Regions from separate parts of the Homo sapiens genome. Here region 1 is linked to region 2. Evidence: fine-mapped expression QTL. A gene starts in region 2. The other region holds a variant in brackets. All regions are shown on one strand. Distances are between the middles of the regions.

Evidence for each region. PIP is the estimated chance that this variant, and not a neighbour inherited with it, causes the effect.
Region 1: its variant is the best candidate, but not a certain one, in a credible set for the expression of ABCB9 in whole blood (INTERVAL, PIP 0.74).

Annotation. Positions count from the first base shown.
Region 1 is chr12:123,184,943-123,187,850 of GRCh38, reverse strand. All of the region lies in intron 13 of MPHOSPH9 (M-phase phosphoprotein 9), which reads left to right. Among named protein-coding and RNA genes, the nearest start is that of PITPNM2, 35 kb to the right of the region's middle. The variant TTG/G (reference allele first, on the strand shown) is at 1,622.
Region 2 is chr12:122,964,879-122,967,786 of GRCh38, reverse strand. It overlaps ABCB9 (ATP binding cassette subfamily B member 9), which reads left to right and starts at 1,324. Exons shown (of 12, transcript NM_019625.4): 1 at 1,324-1,500. RefSeq lists a silencer at 1,016-1,305 and enhancers at 1,070-1,875, 1,876-2,683.

The DNA.
Region 1 (2,908 bases), 220 kb before region 2:
CCCAGCCCAGAATTACCTCTTACGTAATATATGGTATGAGTAGGAATTGAACTTGATCCTCCCTGCCTCCAATGATTAACCAGTTGTCCCAGAATCATTTTTAAATAGATTTTCCTTCCCTTACTGACTTCTGTTGTACATTTTATTTCCTTCTCGTGTAAATCTCCTTTGAGGCTCTGAGCTGTTCCATTGGTCTGTCTCTGAATTGGAACCACATCATGTAAATTATTAGTATTTTATAACAAGTGTTGATTTTTGGTGCCATTTCCTTATCTCGTTTTTTTGCTCTTGTAAAAATTATTTTGCCTATTTCTTGGCTTTGTTTTGTTTCATACAAATATTACTGTCAGCATGCCACTCTGCTTTCGATTGGAATTGCACTGAATTTACAGATTTATTTGGAGACAGCTGAGACTTGAAATATTGATTCTTCCCATACATGAACGTGGTTTAAATCTCAAGTATTTTTCTTTTTTAAAAATTAAGGCCTTTTACATCCTTTGTTCATTTTTTTCTCGAGGTATATCATATTCTAGTATTTATGTATTTCTAAATAATGTACTGATATTGTTCGTTCGTTCTTTTTTTTTGAGACAGAGTTTCGCTTTTATTGCCCAAGCTGGAGTGCAATGGCGCAATCTTGGCTACTGCGGCCTCTGCCTCCTGGGTTCAAGTGATTCTCCTACCTCAGCCTACCAAGTAGCTGGGATTATAGGCGAGCACCACAACACCCGGCTAGTTTTTTGTATTTTTGGTAGAAACAGGGTTTCACCATGTTAGCCATGGCTGGTCTCGGACTCCTGACCTCAGGTGATCTGCCCGCCTCAGCCTCCCAAGGTGCTGGGATTACAGGCGAGAGCCACTGCGCCTGGCCTCTTTCTTTCCTTTTTGAGATGGAATCTTGTTCTGTCGCCCAGGCTGGAGTGCAGTGGCATGATCTTGGCTCACTGCAACCTCCACTTCCTGGGTTCAAACAATTCTCTTGCCTCAGCCTCCTGAGTAGCTGGGGTTACAGGCGCGTGCCACCATGCCTAGCTAATTTTTGCATTTTTAGTAGAGATGAGATTTCACCATATTGGCCAGGCTGACCTCGAAATCCTGACCTCAAGTGATCCACTTGCCTCAGCCTCATGAAAGGCTGGGATTACAGGAATGAGCCCCTGTGGCTGGCTCGATATTGTTATTTCTTAAATTTTACATATTATCTATAATTGTGGTGGGTGAAGATCTAGGTCCTAGCTGAAGATGAAGATCTAGATCCTAACTGTGATTCTGGGTGTATGTTTTCTTCAGATTTGAAGGCTTTGTTTTATTGCCTATGACATGATCAATTCTTTTCCTTTCTCTCCCCTCCCATGGCTTTCAAAGTTTCAAGCCTGCAGAAAAATTGTAAGAATGATACAATGAAAACCCTTGTATATTCTTTACCTAGATTTACCAGTTGTGAGTATCTTACAGCATTGCTTTGTCTTCATAGAGATATAAACTTTTTTCTTTTGCTGAACTATATTTGAGAGTAAATTAGACACTATGATAATTTACCCTTAAATACCTCAATAGGTATCTCTGAAGAACAGAGATATTCTCCTGTGTAATCTCTTTTTTTTTTTTTTTTTTTTTT[TTG/G]AGACGGAGTTTTGCTCTTATTGCCCAGGCTGGAGTGCAATGGCACGATCTCAGCTCACCACAACCTCCGCCTCCCGGGTTCAAGCAATGCTCCCGCCTCAGCCTCCCAAGTAGCTGAGATTACAGGCGCACACCACCCCATGCCCAGCTAATTTTTGTATTTTTAGTAGAAACGGGGTTTCACCATGTTGGTCAGGCTGGTCTCGAACTCCTGACCTCGTGATCCACCCGCCTCGGCCTCCCAAAGTGCTAAGGATTACAGGCTTGAGCCACCATGCCCGGCCTCTCCTGTGTAATCTCAATGTACTTTTCATCCTCAGGAAATTTAACATTGATATAATACTAATATGTAAATACATTCTGTCTATATTCAAATGTTGCCAGTTGTCTAAATAATATCCTTTATAGATGTATTGTTTTTTGCTTTTTAATCCAGAATCCAATCAAGGATCACACATTGCATTTATTGTTATCATTTCTTTGAGACAGGATCTCACTCTGTCACCCAGGCTGGAGTACAGTAGGCATATTCATAGCTCACTGCAGCCTCAACCTCCAGGGCTCAAGTGATCCTCTTACCTCAGCCTCTCCGACTGCTGAGACTACAGACACTACAGGCTATCACACCTGGCTAATTTTATTTTTTTGTAGAGATGCGGTCTCACTATGTTGCTCTTGCTGGTCTCCAACTCCTGAGCTCAAGCGATACTCCCACACTGGCCTCCCAAAGTGCTGGGATTACAGGCATGAGCCAATGTGCCTGGCCCACATTGCATTTAGTAATCATGTTTCTCATTCCTTTCTAATGTGGTTCTTTTTTTCTCTTTCTGGAAGTTTTTTAGGATCATCTTTTTATCCTTGGTATGCCGAAATTTTGTAACAATATTTTTTTTTTTTTTAGTTTCTAACAACTCTTTTTCTGATTGATCATTTTTAATAGCTTTCTATTCCTGTTTTGAATCTAATGTTGTTATTTCTTTGAGAATATTATGGCTTCCATTGGACTGTTTCTGTAGTTTTCATTATTCTGAGTTAAGCTTTTGTTTTCATTTGAAGTATCTTTCATATTTAATGTCTTTTTCCAAGTGTTGGTTCTTTTGCAGGCTCACATTTAAGAGGCACTAGGCTGGGTGTGGTGGCTCACGCCTATAATCTCAGTGCTTTGGGAGGCTGAGACGGGTGGATCACTTGAGGCCAGGAATTTGAGACCAGCCTGGCCAACATGGTGAAACCCTGTCTCTACTAAAACTACAAAAATTAGCTGGGTGTGATGGTGCACATCTAT
Region 2 (2,908 bases):
TGGGCACACATGGCTCACGACTCTAATCCCAGCAGTTTGGAAGGCCAAGGAGGGCAGATCACTTGAGGTCAGGAGTTTGAGACCAGCCTGGCCAACATGGCTAAACCCCATCTCTACTAAAAATACAAAAATTAGCCAGGCGTGGTAGCGGACACCTGTAATCCCATCTACCTGGGAAGCTGAGGCAGGAGAATCACTTGAAGCTGGGAAGCAGAGGCTGCAGTGAGCTGAGAACTCGCCACTGCACTCCATCCTGGAGTCTCTGTCTCAGGAAAAAACAAAGCCTCTGATCAGAGGATCCAGGGATGTGGGCAGTTCTAGCCCCACCTGCTGCCCCTCTGGGCCGTAAGTCCACTCCCCCACCCACTTCCCACGGTTCAGGCCACATGGACCCTTTTCTGGTCCTCAAGTGGCCAAGTTGGTTCCCACCTCAGAGCCTTTGAACTTGCAGGCCTTAGCGTAGGATGTTCCTCCCTCCCCGTGGCTCACGCCTTCTCACCTTTCACTTACACAATTTTATTTATTTTACTGCATCCAGTACCTGAATGGCCTTATGCACTTACTTGCTGATGTTCTGTCCCCTTCACGCCATGAAGGCTGGGAGTTTTCTGTCTTTTCACACACAGCTGTGTTCCCAGCACCTGGCAGTCACTGAGGACATATCGCTGCCTCCCCTCTCCAATGCCCCGAATCCCTGATCTTGCACCAATTTTCTCCGTAAAATGTATTCCCTTCCAATATATCTCATTTGCTTATATGTGTTGTCTGACACCCTCACTAGAATGTCAGCTCCAGAAGGGCAAGGATCTTGTTTTGTTAATTGTTTAATTTCAAATGCTTAAAAGGGCATATGGCACGCCGTAGGCACTGGATAAATATCTGTTGGGTGAACGAATGAAAGAATAAGTGAATGAATGAGGACCATAACCCACCCTCCTGGACTGGCTGGCTGTCCCTCCAGGGAAAAAGGCCAGTTAAAAAGCTGGCCTCCTTCAGGTGAAACCATTTCCGTCCCCTCAGGATGGGCCCGTGGCTCCAGGTGGAGGCCAGCACGCAGTGTGGAGGGCCTGGTTGGCCAGATGTGGGAGGAGTTTGCCACAGGTGAGCAGGTGGCCAGCTGTGGCCCCGCCCCCAGGAGGCCCGTCCCCACCCGGAGGCTTCGCCAGCCCCCTCCTCGGGGGCCCCGCCCCGTCCAGGAAAGCCCGCCCACTCCTCCTGAGGCCCCGCCCCTCCCGGGAGGCTCCGCCGGTCCCTGCCCCAGGATCCCCGCCCCCTCCGTCACTGAGGCCCCGCCCCGTCCATCAGCCTGTCTCAACGCACGCCAGTCTCAGCTCCGACCTTGCAGCGGCGCAGCGCGGGTGGGAGGCGGGGAGGAGCAGCGGGAAGAGCGGAGCGAGGACCGCGTCCGGCGCAGTCTTCAATGAGCAGCGCGGAAACTGCACCCCAGACCCGAGCCTGCTGCGCGCCCCCTCCCAGAGCTCACCTGGTGCCAGGTAACAGGTAAGGGCAAGGCACCCTAGACCCCTGGTTTTGGGACCTTTCCAGGCCAGGGTGCCAGGCCAGGCACGCGTTGGGGGGCGTCTGGGCACCCCTGCCTCGGTGGGAATAGGCATCTCGGTTGAAGGTGGGAGCCTCCCTGGAGCCCTCCCGGAGCCCGCAGCCGCAGCTCCCAGCCCCCATCCCTGCAGCATCCTTTCCGCGCCCGTAGGGCGAATGTTGCCATTTTTTTTAACCCCCAAGGCGCCGCTGCCTCTTGGAAAATGTGGGAGGTGTTGGAGGATCCTGGGATGGCTGTCGTTCCCCCAGGACGGGGCTGGCGCGCCTTCTGAGGGCTCCCACTGTCCATGTCAGGGCTTCCCAGGGATCCTGAGCACCAGGGCTTTGGCAGAAGCCTGGGGGATCTGGCCTGTTCCTGCTGACCTGGGCAAAGCCCTTTTCTCAGTCTCCTCAGCAGGCCAGTGGGCTGCCGCTGCTCCCCGCCATCCACGCTGGCAGTGAGGCCTGTAGGTTCCCAGGGGAGCCTCTTTTATTTCTGGGCCTCTGGAAAAAAAAAAAAAGCCTCCTCCCCCGGCCTGACATTAACTGAGACAGCTTTAAGCTGGGCTGACAGGATCCCCGCCTCTGCCCATTCCCCTTTTCCGGATAGTGCAGGGCCGGGTGACAAGAGGAGGCTTGGAGGGAGGGCACCTCGCGCCTCTCTGCCTCTCCTAGAGCTGAGAGCACCTGAGACAGCTTCTCAAGTCCCAGAGTGAGGCTGGGCCCCACGTGGGCTGCCAGAGGCTCAGCAGGGATGAAATCAGGATGGACCCACGCAGACCCAGCCCGCTCCTGCCCCAGAGCCAGGGACCCCCACAGTCAGGCCCTCCCACCCAGCAGGCCTCTGTCAGTCAGTGCTTTGCTGCGCAGCGAATGGAATGGGCTTATCTGGGTCTGGGCCCACACCGGGGTAAAAAGCTCACCATGTCAGGGGTGAACCGAGGCCACTGGGCCACCCAAGTTCTTTGGCCCCTTTTCTTGCAATCCCTGAATAGCCTGGACAGGGGACCCCCGAGTCTCCATCCTGGAGACCCTGGATGCGGGTCTCCATCCTGCCTTCGTCCTTTTTCTGCGTGTCACTTAACCTCTTCTGTCTCCCCAGCTGTAAAACGAAGCTGATGACCACAGGGTCCTCCCAGGGAAGTGGGGAGGCCTGGCTGCTTTGGGAGGTGCCAGGCACATAGTAGGGCCCGGTGAAGGGTCTCTGTTGCAGTGTCATAATAACTTTTATCTATTGTCTCCTGGCCTTCTCTGCAAAGGGTCTCTGTTGCAGCGTCATAATAACTGCTATCTATCGTCTTCTGGCCTTCTCTGCAGCTGATGCCTAGAGATACCCCAACCAATGTCTCCTACCCTGGGAAGAAAAGCCTTT